Linked DNA regions of Homo sapiens: region 1 is linked to region 2. A link means that fine-mapping ties the variant in region 2 to the expression of a gene that starts in the linked region. Tissue or cell type: whole blood. Region 2 holds a variant in brackets; the other region holds the start of a gene. All regions are shown on one strand. Distances are between the middles of the regions.

The links.
Region 1: ERI1 starts here. The variant in region 2 is fine-mapped to the expression of ERI1 in whole blood (TOPMed, PIP above 0.99).

What each region holds. Positions count from the first base shown.
Region 1 is chr8:8,998,829-9,008,136 of GRCh38, reverse strand. ERI1 (exoribonuclease 1) reads right to left here and starts at 5,240. Exons shown (of 7, transcript NM_153332.4): 1 at 4,966-5,240; 2 at 1-167. The coding sequence starts at 5,073. LOC105379227 (a long non-coding RNA gene) reads left to right here and starts at 5,395. Exons shown (of 3, transcript XR_002956680.2): 1 at 5,395-5,476.
Region 2 is chr8:8,970,089-8,979,517 of GRCh38, reverse strand. LOC124901866 reads right to left here. Exons shown (of 4, transcript XM_047422504.1): 3 at 313-521. Among named protein-coding and RNA genes, the nearest start is that of ERI1, 28 kb to the left of the region's middle. RefSeq lists an enhancer at 1,325-1,619. The variant C/T (reference allele first, on the strand shown) is at 5,728.

The DNA of each region.
Region 1 (9,308 bases), 29 kb before region 2:
TTGAATTCTGAAAGCTTAGCTCTGAGTTCTTCCTTACTCATTCTATTAATACAGCCATTCGTAATGGCAATCTCTTTGTAAACCGGGTCACTGAAGTCACTCGCACTGGAGGTAATGAACTTGGATCCTTTTGTCTCCTGGCCATCAAATTTACACTGTTGAGTTTCCTACCAAAAAAAAAAAAAAAAAAAAAAAAAAAAAGGATGTAGTTTATAATTAGTACAAACATCACAGATTTAAAGATTCAAACTTTCAAACTTCTGAAGCCTCTTCATGCTACATGTTCAATGAAAAGTGTTCACTGCAGCTCCTAAACGGAGGAAAGGATAAGAAGGAAGATGCGTCTCCAATACAATTTACCCCACTCTATTATGAGTCATGAGGTTCCTCAAAGGAAACAAAGCTAAGTAAAAAGAAGACTGGTGGTGGGAGTCAACACCACCTCAATAGAGAACCCCAGCTGACTATTTACTAGAAATAGCAGCATGACTTTGGATAGCTACGTATTAGCCTCTGATCCTCAATTTCCTTATCTATAAAATGGTAATTTGGTAATGGTAAATAGTGTTTGGGCAGAATTATTACAAAGATTAAATGAGATTATGTGTATCAGACCCCTACACCCACAGTAGCTATTAATAAATGGTAACTATTAATATCACAGGCTATACAACAAGCCCTTCACAAACAATATGCTAATATTTACAAATGAACCCATTTTTAAATGAACTTTTACATTATACATGTGTAATAACTTCTGATAATTTTTTAACCTGACTTCATTTCACAAAGTTAACAAAAATTGCCCAACATAAAAACAAAATGGACCGCAAATCTAATTTACAGCTTCCTAGTACTCAAAGAAGGAAATGTATTTAATTTCAAAACTTACATTTTCCAAAAGTTGTACTTAGGTCCACTAACCAGAAGAACTATAGAATTATGAATTTTTTCATAAATAAAAATCTGTTAAGAAAAAACATGACTCAATTCTATTTTCTCCACAGGCAGTCTCAAATTACTAATATGTTAAGTTCCAAAGATTCATTTGTAAGTTATTTTCCACATGCAATATCACAAATATTAGCTATGTTCCATAATTTTGAAAAATATTTAGTACTAATTATCCCTATTAAAGCTTGTTACCTTAGTTATAATGTACCACATTGTCCTCACGTAAACTGTAATTATAGATCAAGGAAGGATAATCACAGAGAGGCCACAGTCCCTAACTCAGAACTGATCCTGATGGTTCAGGAACCATTTCTTACTCTAAGCTCTCAATTTAATGCAACACACATTTACTGGAAATGTAATGCTAGGTAAGGTGCCAGAGTACTCAAGAGTGACTCACCCATTTCCTTTGAGGAAGAGGTCAGCAGTTCCAATGTGTGAACTGTCCATAAATTAAAGAACAGCCACACTGAGGTTCCTTGTTAACAATGTTAAGGAAAAAAAAAGTATTGCTAGTTGACCAATGATTCACTTTCAACAATATATTAGATTTACAATAGATATTGCTCTGCTTGACCAGAATTTTACAAAAAATTATCTTTTGACTTTAAATTTACATTGAATTTGAAACTTCATCTTTAGTCATCATTTAGTAAATTTCAGGTTAAAATTTAGGTCAACATTAAGTAACAGTTTGTCTACCAAAACAGATGTCTCAGTTAATTTAAGCAGATTTTCTCTTTGGATAAATCCTCTTTCTGATTCACTGGTTAATTCTCATCCTAAACTGTAGCTAGAAAAATTATTCACAAGTAACACTTAGGCCTCTTCTATAGATGCTATAAATTATGACTTCCATAAAGAAAAATTTGCTTCCTTTCCTAGGTCCAGCTCTAGTTCTCTTCCTTCAGTGAAGTTCTAGAGACAGCCGAGGTCCAATCCTCAGAAAGCAGTGTCTCCTCCCAAATTTCAAATCTACACTAATGGTTCACAAAGAAGGATGCTCAAATCAATCTGCCAAGGAGCAGAAAGAAAATACTAAAAACCCTACTTGTATTGTTAATCTGCAGAAAGACAAAATTAGTTTACGAAATACATACTTACATTTGCATCAGCATCCGTACCAGTAACTACATCCACCTATCACATGTCACATATAATACGGACCATATAATGAGAAAAGTGATAGATTCCACAATATGGAGAGAAACATTCACCATCACAGAACTGTAACATTTTGCAATATTCACGTATTCAATTAAGTGGATGTATGGTTTATATTATCTCAAATAAGAGAAGCTTTTACATTATGGGATGTGGCCATGAAAATCTTCTATACCAAACAGAGGTTTACTATCTTGTGGCAAACTACTTTAAAACTGTCGTTGAGGCCGGGCGCGTTGGCTCACGCCTGTAATCCCAGCACTTTGGGAGGCCGAGGCGGGCGGATAACGAGGTCAGGAGATAGAGACCACGGTGAAACCCCGTCTCTACTAAAAATACAAAAAATTAGCCGGGCGGGCGCCTGTAGTCCCAGCTACTCAGGAGGCTGAGGCAGGAGAATGGCGTGAACCCGTGAGGCGGAGCTTGCAGCGAGCCGAGACTGAGCCGCTGCACTCCAGCCTGGGCAACAGAGAGAGACTCCCTCTCAAAAAAAAAAAAAAAAAACATAAAAAAACTGTTGTTGAACTTAAAGATGAGTTACAAATTTTCTTTTACAAAAAGACAGGTATTCTATAATTGCTGTCCTCTTCTTATTGGGAAGGGTACCGGAGCTTGATTTTTAGCATTTTTTTAAAGGAACACAATCTGTTGTTGCAAGAAAAAAGAAAACACATTTTAACAGTAAGCTACAAAGTAACTGCTTGTCAAATAAAACTTTTTCTGTATAGAGAACATTTTGAAAACATGTTCTGGAAATGCTATTATTCTGCTGCCAAAAATCTAGGTACTACCTTTTAAAAAAAGAAAAGGAAAACCTCTGCATCTGCACACTGAAAAAAAACTTAGAATTTTTCTTGATTGACGTTCTTCCAAAAGGAGAGTTCTGATGAAATCTGAACCTACTTATTAAAAATATAAATATGCAATAGCTTCTACTAGTTTACAAAGACAACTAGCATTAGAGATAATGGAAATTTACCACCTGAATTCAACAAAAAACTTTGGCCCAGATTGAAAAACACTGTATCATGGCCAGGCGCAGTGGCTCATTGCCTGTAATCCCAGCACTTTGGGAGGCCGAGGTGGGCGGATCACCTGAGGTCAGGAGTTCCAGACCAGCATGGCCAACATGGTGAAACCCCATCTCTACTAAAAATACAAAAACTAGCCAAGCGTGGTGGTGGGTTCCTGTAATCCCAGCTACTAGGGAGGCTGAGGCACGAGAATCACTTGAATCCGGGAGGCGGGAGGTTGCAGTAAGCTGAGACCATGCCATTGCACTCCAGACTGGGCAACAAGAACGAAACTCCGTCTCCAAAAAAAAAAAAAAAAAAGTATCATTACTATTATTTTTTGAGACAGGGTCTCACTCTGTCACCCAGGTTGGAGTGCAGTGGCACGATCACAGCTCACTGCAGCCTCCACCCATGGGCTCAGGTGATCCTCCCCACTGAGCCTCCCCAGTAGCTGGGACTACGGGAGAGGGCAACTACGACCGGCTTTTTGTAAAAAAAAAAAAAAAAAAAAAAAAAAGTATCACTATAAAGAGCATGCAACAGTAAGTTTTTAACAATTACTACCGTCACTAAAGCCAATTTGGAACAGAGACCTAGGCCTTAAGTAGCTGTAAAAGTGTCAAGACTTTCAAATATAAAGAAGCATATTCAAACACACTTCTTTTACTAAAAATAAACTTCGAAATTTATTTTAAAACCCACTTACAGGATGAGATTGACAACGTATCTCAGGCTGAAGAGGGAGGCAGGTGGAAGAGTGGTTCTTTACAAGAGAAGGGATGTGCAAGTACTCTTTGAAATAACAACCTTAGAAGGAGAAAGATAATTGCAAGGATCCAAAGGAAGTGCACACAGGGCAAAAGGAACATACAGAGATCCTTAACGAGACCTTCTTTCCAATGTCAAAGAACACAAGGCAGCGAGGGGCACTGGGAACAAAAGGGAAAAAACTGTGTGAGATGCAATTACCAAGGGAGGCAGGCACCCGACCCCGCAGAGCAGCAAATGGAAGTGACTCAGGAGGGGAATAAGCCAAATTCATGTTATTGAAAAGCTCATTCTAGCTGCCAGATGGAAACTGACTGTGGACGGAAGGAGCAAGAGTTAGGAGGCCTCTTGCAAATACGCACTTTATGAAGCTTTACGAAGTGTTCAACATGTTTATTATTAGGAAAAGATCAATTTTAGTATTCAATCACTTACAATCCGCAGCGCTAGTCAACAATTAACATTCGTTAAATAAGTTTTAAGACTGTTCTACAACTTTGCCACTGTAACTAAGTTCAACCGATGAGATGTCAAAATGATTCATTCAATCTTATACTATGGTTATATGAGACACCAGTTAATGAGCAAAAGCAGCTAAGACGAAGCTCCACTTAACAGGTACAGAGACAGGGATGCTGGTGAGTGCTTTTTAAATTTTTTCTTTTTTTAAAAACAGGCATGAAGTGACATACCTAGCGTATATGGTGAGATTTTAAAAACATAAAGCCTTGCAAACTACCCATAACGGCTACATGGAGTGACAACAGCAACCGTGAACACAGAATTAAGTTTAAAGCAAAACTCCCTCTTAGAACCTGTTAACCCACTGTAGACAGAACTGGTCTTGACGATTTCCTCCCTCCCAGAGAGTGATTCGGCCCTGAGGGGGCTCCAAGACACCCACCCGAGGATAAAGCCAGGGAGCTGGGCACCGAGGAAGAGGCTGGGGTCCAAGGGCGCACAGCTGCACCTTCTGCGGGACACCTGAGAAGAAAGGGGTGCCGAGGGCGCTTTGGGGACGGGGCAGCTGGCGCCAACAGCCAGGCGCGGGTCGACTCCTCACCTCGGGACTGGGACGCGGCGGCTCCTCCCCGCCCTCCGGCCGCGGCGACTCCAGCAGCGCGAGAGCCACGGCCTCGCCGGCAGGCTCTTTACTCTGTGGATCCTCCATGCCGGCTGTCACGCCAGAGGAGAGTTGCTGGAGCCGGACACTTGCTAACTCTCACTCTGCAGAGCCCGAAAGCCTCGCCTTTCTCCGTTGAAAAATTACCGGGCTCGCGTTCCCGCGGCGGCGGCCACACAAACTCCAGCGGCCACCTCCCACTTCCGGGAGCGTGTGGCGTCCACACGCCGGGCAGGCGCAGTGAGCCGGCGTGCGCGGAACGCCAGCGCCGCAGTCCACAGGGGGAGGGAGGACGAACAAGAGGGAGGCGCGCCGGTGAGAAGACGGGGCGTGGCCGGCCGTAGGCGGAGCTAGCGCGGGTTGAAGTTGCGCAAGGATCTAGTCCAGTCACTGGAGGGTAGCACCGGCACGTGTGTTCCCGTCAGTGTTTCCTGAGAAGGAAAAAAGTAGGGTGAGTGGGAAGATATCATAGAGAAAGATGTTTTCGACCATAAAAAATAATAAAACAATTCACATTTTCCATAAGGAGTTTCCTAAAACTTCCACTCTGGGCAAGAAAAGAAAATGGGTCGGGACTTAGTGTCCCACTATAAACAATTAGAAAACGGAACAAAATATAGGAGACACCTATTCAGACATTGGACAACGGACAGCTGTGGACTGTTTTACCTGAGAGAAAAGAAATAAAAGGAGCCGTATATCATCCTGCCCTTTTGCCCAGAGGCGATTTCCAGTCTGTGGTGCGATGAAAGGAAATCATATGGAAACCTAGGATCTCCTGGGTTGAAAAGACAGAGATTGGAGTTGACGAAATTGGGGTAGGCCAAGTCGGTTGGAATTTGTAGGGCAGAATTCTGGAGAGGAGGGAATTACATGGAAAAAGAGCTTCAGAAATCTGCTTAGGAGTACCTTGAATCTTTAACTGAATAAAAAACGTGAAACTCCACAAGGCCAGGAAAGAACAATTACTGGGGAGCAGTACACCAAACAATGGTGAGAGGTCACACAGAACTGGGAATCATTTGAGCTCCCAGCAACCAGAGTGAAGAGATTATTGAATACCATGGAACACGCAATAGAAACCTCAGATGTGAAACTGCCATTGCAAAATTATCATTGAGACAGTGAAAGAGATCAGACCTAACCAACTCCATCTTGCTTTTAACCTCCAGGCTATCCTTATTCATTCCTAGGCGTAGGCCAAACTAACACTGGGAGGAACTTAGTGTATAGCTTATAGTTTAAAACAAAGGTGATAGCCCTTTCTCAAAATAAACCCTCTTCTTGAGACTAGACTGCTTTTGTAGGACTAGTAAATTAGCCGAAAGATTAGAAATTATGATTTAGGACTCATGCAGCTGAAGGCTACAAGATTCTAACCCTCTCCAAATTGCTCCTGGGGATAATATCACTATTGTAAAATCTAAGATCAGTGCTTGAGATATTTTGCAGGCCCTGCACTTGATGGATCAGCTGGCACCTCCCAGATTGATAAACTGACTCACCTGATCTTGGATAAACTAGCTCATCTGATTTTGTGTCCCCCACGGGAGGAACTGACTCAGTGCAAGAGGACAGCATCGACTCCCTATGATTTCATCTCCTACCCAACCAGTCACCACTCCCATCTCACTGGCTTCTCACCCACCCAATTATCCTTAAAAACTCTGATCCCCAAATGCTCAGGGAGACTGATTTGATTAATAAAACTCAGGTCTCCTGCACTGCCAGCTCTGCATGAATTGCTCTTTATTGCAATTCCCCTGTCTTGATAAATCGACTCTGTCTAGGCAGTAGGCAAGATGAACCTTTTGGGTGGTTACGAAAGTGTCATGCCTTAGTGAGATATAATAACCGTAGACTGCAGGACCCAGAACATAAACTACTGTAGATTCTTCAAAAGCCTTAAAACAAGCCCTGAAAGGATCAAACTGCTCTGTAAGTAACCTAATTACCTGTAAGAACAAATTCTAAAACTCTCTGAAAGACTACAGTAAAATCCAGGATTCAACAACATTAAATTCAAAATGTGAGACATCCAGTCAAAAATTGAAAGACACGCAGCACTTGGGGATGCTGAGGCGGGAGGATTGCTTGAGCCCAGGAGTTTGAGGCTGCAGTGACCTATGATTGCACCACCACAACCCAGCCTGGGTGACAGGGTAAGACTCTGTCTCAAAAGAGAGAGAGAGAGACCAAGTGGTAAGAAAATATCTCACGAAGTTCATAGAAACAAACCCCAAAATGATAAAAATGATGGAATTAACAGACAAGGATTTTAAACACCTGTTATGAATATGCTCAAAGATTTAAAGGAAGACATGATAGGAGAGAAACTGGAAAGATTTTTGAAAAATCAAATTTCTGGATGGAGGTGAAAAATATTTGAAATAAAAATTTCTTTGGATGGGATTGCTAGCGCATTAAGCAATGCAGAGAAAAAGGTAAATAAATTCAAAGATATAGCAACAGAAACAATACAAAATGACACACACACACACAGAAAAAAGATGAATACAGCTTCAGTAACCACTTAAAGAGGCTTAATACTTCAGGACCACTTGAAGAGGCTTAATACTATTGACCTAAAAGGTAGAAGCTGAGGCAAAATTAATATAACTAGAGAGTTTATTTGGTCCAAGTTTGAGGATTGCAACCCAGGAGCATAGAATTGAAGTTGTGCTGAATCCATCTACTCAGAAGATATGCCAGTTTGGAAGTTAAGTGAACACTTAGTAACCAATCATAATTGTCTTAAGTCTTGCCCATTCTAGATTATTTGCTTTGTTAAATAGGCAATTGAGATAGGGCATAATTCCAATAACAATAATCTTTGATGGGGTTAAGTAGCCCTTTCTAACCATACATACCTCCATCTCAGCTTCTATCTCAAGAAACAACTCTTTTGACTTTGTTTCTTTGACTTCTAGAACTAGTGCAGCAGCATCAAGAAATTAGACCTGCCATAAATAAAAAGACCCAGAAGAAGATACTCTAATAAGTAGTGAGGCTTTTGTCCATGAAGCCTATGATGAGCAGCTGTGCTGGGGAAACTCCAAGAAGTTTCTCTGAGGAAATTGGATTGTGAGACACAGTTAAAGAATGTCCCTTCTGAAAAATCCTAGCTAGGTGAAAATAGTCGAAGTCAGTCAAAAAATAGTAAAAAAAAAAAAAAAAAAAAAATACAAGCTAGATGAAAATAGCTACATGAAAATTACTATCGTGCAGTAACTTTTTTTGTCTTTAGACTCTGGTTTGAGCTATTAAAGGTTGAACAAAGTGAAACATGCATGAAATAACCGAAAAGGAAGATGAGGCAAAATTAATATAAGTAGAGTTTATCTGGGCCAAGTTTGAGGATTGCAATTGTAGATTCAAGTTGCCCTGGGTATACTCAGATCAGTAGAAGCTACAAGTGAATTTTTAAAGGAAAGAGGCAGTTGCTGGGTTGTTTATCAAGAATTTACTGTAAGGCCAGGCGTGATGGCCCACACCTGTAATCCCAGCAGTTTGCCAGGCTGAGGTGCGAGGACCACTTAAGCTCAGGACCAACCTGGCCACATGGTGAAACCTCATCTCTACAGAAGGAAGGAAGGAAGGGAAGGAGGGAGGGAGGGAAGGAAAGAAAAAGAAAGACAGGCAATCAACAAAAGAAATAAGTAAAATGCTTATAGTATGGAGAAAAGTAAAACAGGAAAAGGGAATGGGAGGGTGCCCAGGTATGGAGGGGGTTACAATTTTAAATAGAATCGTTAGGGAAGACCTCTCTAATGATGTGCCATTTGTGTAAAGACTTGAAGAGGCAAGGGAGTAAACTGAGTATATATGGGAGAAGAGAAGTTTAGGCAGAGTAAACAAGTGAAAAGATCCTGAGCTGGGAGTGTACCCAAAATGTTTAAGAAATATCACTGTGTTCAGTACTTTCTTATGACTGTGTGACATCAGTATGCAGGAGACCTAAATGTTTTTATTTATTTATTTATTTATTTATTTTTTGAGACAGAGTCTCGCTCTGTAGCCCAGGCTGGAGTGCAATGGCGCTATCTTGGCTCACTGCAACCTCAGCCTCCTGGGTTCAAGAGATTCTCATGCCTCAGCCTCCCAAGTAGCTGGGATTACAGGCGCCTGCCACCACACCTGGGTAATTTTTGTATTTTTAGTAGAGGTGGGATTTCACCATGTTGGCCAAGCGAAACTCTCAAACTCCTGATCTCAGGTGACCTACCCGCCTTGGCCTCCCAAAGTGCTGGGATTACAGGCATGAGCCACCTTGCCTGGCCGAT
Region 2 (9,429 bases):
AGGTTCCAGAGAATCTCCTCCCTACTCGATACTTGTTTTGTGATGCAAACGCCCCTATTTGCATGATCATAATAGTGTGAAATTAGGTGATTCTTTATTAACCTTAAAGCAACCAATCAACCATTAGCAGTGGATGCTCACAACAGCTCTGAGTGATACAGAGAACAGATACAATTATTATTATTCCCCTTATACAGAAAAGGGGGATTTCCCCTTTCAGGAAAACTGAACGCAGAGAGAGAATTAATTCAGGGGATGTTGACAAAGGTGTGGGGTATGCTAGAAGAGCAAAAGAGAGAAGAGGGGTGTTACCCAGAGGGTAGAAGCTGCAGCAGTCCCCGGGCTGGAGCTGCTGAATGTCTGGAGACGTCCCCACTGCTGGGGAGCGGAAGCCAATCCTGTGTCTCCGCTGGAGCCTCAGATGCTTCTCGGGCCCCCTGTTGTATACAGTCACTGGTACCGCTGCCGCTGGAGCCAGAAGTAGGATGGCTTCTCCCTGTCTCGCACCTGCTCATCTTCCCCTGGAGTTAGGGAACATAGGCAATGACACAAAGGAAGGCAGAGAAGGGTGGGAGTTTGGCAGAGAACCAGCAGACACTGTGGCTTGGAGGCAAATGGAGATTTGTTGATAACTAGAGTTAGGGGCAGTCAGGACTAGAAGCCAGGCGTGAAGTTCAGGAGGCCCCAAGGCCACTTTCACTTCAGATACTAACTGCAAGTTCAGGGATCCTCAAGACCACCCACAGATTTGACAATCTGTTGGAAGGACTCACAGAACTCACTGAAAGCTGTTATACTCACAGTTGTGGCTTATCACAGTGAAAGAATGCAAATTTAAATCAGCTGAGGGGGCGGGGCGTGGTGGCTCACACCTGTAATCCCAGCACTTTGGGAGGCCAAGGCAGGCAGATCACCTGAGGTCAGGAGTTCGAGACCAGCCTGGCCAAAATGGTGAAACTTCATCTCTACAAAAACACAAAAAAATTAGCCAGGTGTGCTGGTGGTGGCACATGCTTGTAATTCTAGCTACTTGGGAGGCTGAGGCAGGAGAATTGCTTGAACCTGGGAGGCAGAGGTTACAGTGAGCTGAGATTGCGCCACTGCACTCCAGCCTGGGCGACAAGAGTGAAACTCTGTCTCTAAATAAATAAATAAACTGAGGGAAGAGGCATATGGGGAAGAGTCCAGGAGAGCTCCACGTGCAAAGCTTCCAGTTGTTCTTTCCCAGTGGAGAACTAACTCAGCAGTGATGTGTGAGGATATGCATGAATTGCCACCCAGAGAAGCTCACCTGAGCCTCAATGTCCACAGTTTTTACTGGGGTTCTGTCACATCGACATGGTCAGTTTCCAGCCCTTCCGGAGGCTGAGCTGGAGCTGTGTGGCCCAAAGCCTGCATTATCGATTACATTGTTAGCATAGGTTATGGAGCTTGTTCCAAAGTCCTCAGGTAAACATTCTTATCAAGCAGGATATTCCAGTGGTTTAGAGATTATCTTCCAGGAGCTGAGGGCAAAGGCCAGACCCCTGTATGGGCAAAGTTAATCCTCTCCTGCATATGAGGTCTTCCCCCTCTCAACTTGGTGGTACTTTCAATGCTCTCAAGCTCCTTATTTGATCCTCAAAGCCGCATTATAGCATAGCCAAGGGATGCAAAAAGACAACTAAAAAAAATTCTATCAACTTTGCAGGGCATACAATATTAAGTAATTTCAAGTATAAAGTGTATTTTCAATTAGCATATGAGTTCACTTTTATATAATGTGTAGTAATATTTAAAATATATAGAAACATTTAGTTTTTTTCCCACTTAACAATTGATACATACTATTCATTTAAATCAGGTTGGGCACAGTGGCTTATGCCTGTAATCCCAGCACTTTGGGAGGCTGAGGCAGGTGGATCATTTGAGGTCGGGAGTTCAATACCAGCCTGGCCAACATGGCAAAACCCCATCTCTACTAAAAATACAAAAATTAGCCAAGCATGGTGGCACATGCCTGTAATCCCAGCTACTCAGGAGGCTGAGGCATGATCACTTGAACCCGGGAGGTGGAAGTTGCGGTGAGCCGAGATGGCGCCACTGCACTCCAGCTAACAGTGACAGTCCATCCAGAATAATTAATTAATTAATTAAGTAGCAAAAACATGCTTTATAAACAAATTAATTCAAGAAGAATATATATGATATTTAGCCTTAGGATCAAACATATATTAAAAACTGGTTTAAAATTTAAAATTGCATACTACTGTATAAACAGATTGCCTTTAGCACATTAAATAGGAAATTCACTTACTATAATTTCCATGTTTTGTTTCTAAGTTATCAATTCAGAGGAAATATTTCAAGCTTCTAAATACAGGTATTTCTGTGCAAACAACGTATTTCAGGTGCTAATGTTTACTTTTGATAAATAAGAAGTCAAATTAAATTTAATAGGCACCATATTTTCTCTCTTAATATATTTTGAAGTACAAGAAGTATTTTGTTGTGCTAAATAACACTTTTGTTGAGATGAATACAACATACAAACTGCAAATATCTCCTTGAAATAAATTTGCATAATTATTATCATTTTAATAATCCTCAGCAAGTTGTTGGATTTTGACATCTGTATGCTTCTTACCTTTAACGAATGATGTTGATATGAATTTTAAAACAAGAAAGTGAGAATAAAATAACTTTATATGTATGGTTGGAGTATTTTTTAAGCTTCTATAACAAAAATACCATAAAATGCATGGCTTAAAGATCATAAGGTTTATTTCTCTCTTATTTAACGTCTGTAGGTGAGTGGTTTCATTGAGGGTGAGATCTGTTCCGCATGTATTCTGAGAGCCAGTTGTTCTGCCATCCCATGAGACAGAATGACTAGAAAAAAGAAACCATGTTGCTTCTTAAGTTTTTTGTGACAAGGTCCCCTTTGACAGTCTGGTGAAGCTTATGGACTATCTCAGAATAATTTTTTTCTTTTTATCATTATTATTATTATTTAATACAGATAAGGTCTTGCTATGTTGACCAGGCTGGTCTCAAACTCCTGGCCTCAAGTCATCCTCCCATGTCGGCCTCCCATAGTGCTTGGATTACAGGTGAGAGCCACCATGCCTAGCCTCAGAATAATTTTTTCAAAGATATAAAAGAAAATGTATAGGATTATAAAAGATAGCAATTATATTGAAATATATTCATCACAATGCTTATAAAGCAAATGTGTGAATTACTAATATATTTGCTTCTTTATTAATACATTAAATAGAAAGATCTAGTAGGGTCAAATTGTCTCGTATCACAATTTCAAACTGGTGAAGAGCACAAATAATATTTTGAGATATCTTCAGCTGAAATGTGAAATAAAAATACCTTTCTATTGGTCACAAAGTTACCTGTACTCTTAATACTGTGGTTACTTTCCTGTATTCATAATTGAAAAACACAATTTCAGTTAGAGTTAAATTGAAATGAAGACTTTTTTTCCCTGATTTAACTTCATTAACCCACATGGTTTATATCCCCAAATTCCTTGAGTATTCATAAAACCCTGATTAACAGCTCCTGGGCTGGGCACGGTGGCTCATGCCTGTAATCCCAGCACTTTGGAAGGCTGAGGCAGGCAGATCACTTGAGGTCGGGAGTTTGAGGCCATCCTGGCCAATGTGGCAAAACCCTGTCTCTACTAAAAATACAAAAATTAGCTGGCCGTGGTGGTGCGAGCCTATAATCCCACCTACTTGGGAAGCTGAGGCAGGAGAATCTCTTGAACCCAGGAGGTGGAGGTTGCGGTGAGCTGAGATCAAATCACTGCACTCCAGCCTGGGTGAAAGAGCGAGACTCCATCTAAAAAAAAAAAAAAATAACAAAAAAACAAAACAAAAAAACTGACCTAGGGCTATGAATTAATCTACATAATCAAAGTCAAGCAGCAAACATAGCTATTTTCTGATTCAAGAAAGGGAAAAAATGAAAATCTGTAACAATTTGGGGGGAAGTAAAGGCCAAGTTTTGGGGAGTGTTTTAAGGAAGTAAGACCAAAAAAGAATTTTTTTTTTTTTTGAGATGGAGTCTCACTTTGTTGCCCAGGCTGGAGTGCAGTAGAGTGATCTCGGCTCACTGCCACCTCCACCTCCCGGGTTCAAGTGAATCTCCTGCCTCAGCCTCCCCAGTAGCTGGGATTACAGGCGTGTGCCACCACGCCTGGCTAATTTTTGTATTTGTAGTAGAGATGGGGTTTCACCATGTTGGACAGACTGATCTTGAAGTCTTGAGCTCAAGTGATCCACCTGCCAGCTTCAGCCTCCCAAAGTGTTGGGATCATAGGCGTGAGCCACTGAGCCCGGCTGAAATCAAAATTTCGTGCATTATTTCCTCTCACAATTCACTGATGAAAACTTAGCTGGATGGCCACACCTAGCTGTAAAAAAGGCTGGGGTAGGCAGGGTGTGATGGCTCATACCTATATTCACAGCACTTTGGATGCCTGAGGTGGGACGATCACTTGAGAACAGGAGTTCAAGACCAGCTCGGGCAAAAACCACATATCTGCAAAAAAATCTAACAACCAGCCAGGCGTGGTGGTGTGTGCCTGTAGTCCCAGCTGCTTGGGAGGCTGATGTGGAGGGATCGTTTAAGCCAGTAGGTTGAGGCTTCAGTGAGCCATGATTGCACCACTGCACTCTAGCTTGGGTGAAAAAGCAAGACCCTGTCAGAAGAAGGAGAAGGAGAAGGAGGGGGAGAAGGAGAACAAGGGGGAAGAGAAGGGGTTGGGGAGGGTGAAGGGGGAGGGGAGGTGAAGGGGAAAGGGAGGAGGGAGGAGGGAGGAAAAGAAGGAGGAGGAGGAGAAGAAGAAGACTGGGAAATACAATTTTTAGCTGGCTCACCATTTTCTAATGAAGAAGGGGAAAATGGATGTGGGGTGACAACAAGCAGCCTGCCATGCTCCATGGTAGTCAGAGACAACATGGTGGGCTGTTGTGCTCAGCTGGTGCTAACTCAATAGAGTGACCGTGTCATCAGCCTTTTTATCTGATCCCCCAATTGCTCCATATGGTTAGTTGGTACATACTCAAAGGCTCTCAGGTGAGAGACATTTGTCAAGATCACCTCTAAAACTAGAGAGTGAAAGAGTTGCCATGATACCCTCTTAAAATCCCAGGTATCCACATACTTCTGAGAAATGTTGCCCTCAACCAAACAGAAAGGCACGAGACCCTGGAGACAATATGTCCTAGCACTGACCCCTAGGGGACACACCACGTTCTTCTCTCCACCTGTTCTGCAGCCCAGCTCTCCCCTCACTGCACCGTTTAGGGGCAGGAACGCGGATCTGTAGGGGTCAGAGGCCAGGGCATTTGTTTCCACTGTCACGGGGGTGAGGTCTCTGTGTTTGTGATTCAGACATTTGGGGGATTTGCTTTCTCTTCCATAACGCTGGCCCAAAACTGCATCTGTTTGGGGGTTGCTGCATCCCAGGAAGCAGGGTGGTGGAGAAACCACGGATAGGTGGGTGGTGGCGAAACCACGGATAGGTGGTTGGTGGCAGATGGGGGAGTACTGGCAAGTTCCCAAGTGCAGAGGTAGCGATGCCTGCATCAGCAACCACTATCTCGTGCCAGCATCAGCCATGGTGAGCATTGTGGTCTTGTGTCCAATGCCCACTGCACTGGTGTCCTCACTGACTGACTTCTGCTCCTGCCTGCCACCAAAGCTTTGACTTTAAGCCTGCTTCTC[C/T]CATCTGCTCAGCACGAGCCGGAGCTCCTGAATAGCCTTCTGCTAAATTTCTTCCTTCCAAAGTTATTGGAGTTGGATTCTGTTGCTCACAAATAAGATTCCTGACAGATAACAGTTTGAGGGGATTAGAGACACTCCAATCTAGCTCTCAGGAGGAAGCGTATTCCTTCTTTTTCCTTGGATTTGTCTTATTACATTGAGCTGTTCACGAGGCTGTGGCTTGCGCTGGGCTTAGAGGAAAGGGAGTCTAAGACGCCGTTCATCCCACTTTTACTGGTGCAGCTCCTTGAGCCTATCTCTATCCAGGCGAAATGAATCCTTCACATCATTTACCCCAGCTCACAACTCTCTGGAGGCTTAGAGCGAAAGCCTAATCATAGCAATGACAGCCAGCTTTGTCTGCTCTCATTCTCCCTCGCACCACCCCCCTCCCCACGTTTGGAAAGGATTTAAGTGATTAGGAGCCTGGCTCTCCCAGACGCTTCTTTCCATCTGAGCTCCACAGATCACTTTATCACCTTTCACCAAACTGGTAGACTGTGCGTTATACAAGAAGACAATCTGAGTCCATTTTGTGGAGCGCTTGGGGCCAGAAAGTGCTGGCTACACAAGTCTGGAATTAGTATTTATAGAGCATAAATCAACAGAAATTATAGACATGGAATATTCTGAGAGAAAATAAATAAAAGCTAGTATGGGCTTTTGTGGAGGAGGATTAACAAGACGCGGTTCAAGGCTGGGAATGCCAGAAAAAGACTGGGGACAGATCCAGTTATGAACATGGAAATCCATGAAACTGCCTCCCCCAATCTATGTTCAAAGGAAAAGCTCTCAGCAAATATAAAATGATTTTTAAAAAATTTTTTGCTTTGAATTTCAGAATTTGCACTTATTTATGGAGGCAAATATGTTGTATATAAACTTCTAATCCAATGTTTTTATTCTCTAAAATGACAATGAGGATGATGACGAAACACCAGTCATTTACTGGGCACTTTGTTTGTTTGTTTTTGAGAAGGAGTATTGCTCTGTCGCCCAGGCCGGAGTGCAGTGGCATAATCTTGGCTCACTGCAACCTCTACCTCCCGAGTTCAAGCAATTCTCCTGCCTCAGTCTCCCAAGTAGCTGGGACTACAGGTGTGCACAGCCACGCATGGCTAATTTTTGTATTTTTAGTAGAGATGGGATTTCACCATGTTGGCAAGGACGATCTTGATCTCCTGACCTTGTGATCCACCCGCCTTGGCCTCCCAAAGTACTGAGATTACAGGCATGAGCCATAGTGCCCAGCCTAATTTTTGTATTTTTAGTAGAGGCGGGGTTTTGCCATGTTGGTCAGGCCGGTCTTGAACTCTTGACCTTGGTGATCCGCCCACCTCGGCCTCCCAAAATGCTGGGATTACAGGCATGAACCACCGTGCCCAGCCAACTGTTTTTTTTTTTTTTTTGGGGGGGATGCAGTCTCTCTCTGTCTCCCAGGCTGGAATGCAGTGGCACGATCATGGCTCACTGCAGCCTCAACCTCCTGGGCTCAAACGAACCTACTGCCTCAGCTTCCCAAAGCGCTGGGACCACATGCATGAGCCACTATGCCTTGGGCCTGTCTGTTGGGCACTGTCAAGCACCATGCTAAGTGATTTACACATACTAGCTCATTTAATCTTCACACCTGTATATGGCTGGTGCTATAGTTTCCCTCCTTTTAAAGATGACACTGAGTCTTAGATAAGATAGCCAGCTCAACATCATATAACTAGTTAATATCTCAGGACTTAGCCTCCTTTTTTCCCAGCACTTATATGTATTTAATTACTTTCTGGAAGCGCCCAGTGGGAAAATGTTCACTCTTCTTTTGTTTCCAGCTGCCAGATTGGTATTCTCCACCCCAAATGCACATTAGAATCACCTTATCAGCCTTTAAAAATTTTTGATGCCAGGGTCATGCACTCGGTCAATTAAGTCAGAATACCATGCGTGTATTTCACTGTAGAGCAAGTTAAGCTAACTACTGGATTAGGATGGAAAAAGAAAATGAAACGGCCATTGCATTGAAACTACAATGGTAAATTCCTGGTTAGGAGAGTGGGGATTAGAGCCACTAGGGGATAAGGACTACAGAATCTGCTTTTAGCTCCAATAAGCAAGAGGTTAAGTGGAGGAAGCAATGCATTAAACAAACGCGGAGTCGCTTCTCTTTTTCATAATGTGTCTCACAAGCACTGAATTTGAAGGGAGAAAACAATGAAAATTTAGGGGTAATTCTCAAAAATAATCTCCCTGGGGACAGATAGTACACAAAAGCAAGGACATAAGACTAATAAAACCATTGCTAACATTTATCAAGAAAAAAAGAACACCATAGGAATGGGCCCTGGCATTCATATTTTATAAAGTCTTCCCGAGAGATTCTGTCGTGCAGCCAAGGTTGAGAATGATTGCCTCATCTCCTTCCTCGCAATCCAGTTTTCCTACCCTGCACATCTCCACTTTGCTATTTGGTATATGGCATACAGCATCTGCCTATGAGTTATGGGATTGCCAGACAAGCAAACGGCATGCAGCCCTGCAGAAGGGATACTGTCCTCAAGCTAGCTTGCAACGGTTTCTACAGGCGGGCAGCTGTTCGAAGTTGAAGAGATGGGATACTGGATCCCATCCCACCCATTTCATTCAGCTCATCCCTGGACATGTATTTCCTGCAGTGTTATTCCCCGTGGCTGAGCTTCTAAGAGCTCCTGCACCTGCACTTGGGGCCAGCTCAGTTATAAAATGCCTAGAAAACTTTTGGAGACTTTGCTCTTTTTCTCTGTGAATAAACTCATCATTTCAATGCCAAGCTTCTCATTGGGATTAGTTTACCAGCTTTAGACTTTTTTGTTTCTTTTTTCTTTTTTTTTTTTAGACGGAGTTTCATTCTTGTCACCCAGGCTGGAGTGAAATGGTGTGATCTCAGCTCACTGCAACCTCCACCTCTCGGGTTCAAGCAATTCTCAGACTTCCAAGTAGTTGGGATTACAGGCACCTGTCACCATGACAGGCTAATTTTTGTATTTTTAGTAGAGACGCGTTTTCACCATGTTGGCCAGGCTGGTCTTGAACTCCTGACCTCAGGTGATCCAACTACTTTGGCCTCCCACAATGCTGGGATTACAGGTGTGAGCCACTATGCCTGGCTCGGCTTTTGACTTTTAAGTGAGTCTGGTTTTTCAGCAACTTCACCTTCCTTCTTGGACTCAAATCTCAAGTCAGTGAATAAAATTCATAATGTTCCTGTTGGAGAAAGAGTTATATCTTTTTCTTTTTCTTTTTTTTTGCTAGGCAGGGTCTTGCTTTGTCACCCAGGCTTGAGTGCAGTGGCGTGATCATGGCTCAAAGCAGCCTCGCTCTTTAGCTCAATCAGTCTTCCTGAGGTAGAACAATAGGCCCTGGAAGGAAAACCCTAACTTTCCACACCTAAGTGACAAGGACCAGAGGCTACTCCCTTTGCAAACCCGTCTTTTCTGCTCGGGCAGATGGGAAATTGAAAGTACCTCTGATTGCAACCAATCAGACGTTTGCATAGGAGTGTAACTTTGAAACTTTACTTTAGCCTCTGACTGTTAGCTTTCCAAGACCAATCTCTGATTGCCAGCCAAGTCTTGGTTTGCATAGAAGAGCAACTTTGTAACTTCGCTTTACCCTCTGATTGTTAGCTTTGCGAGA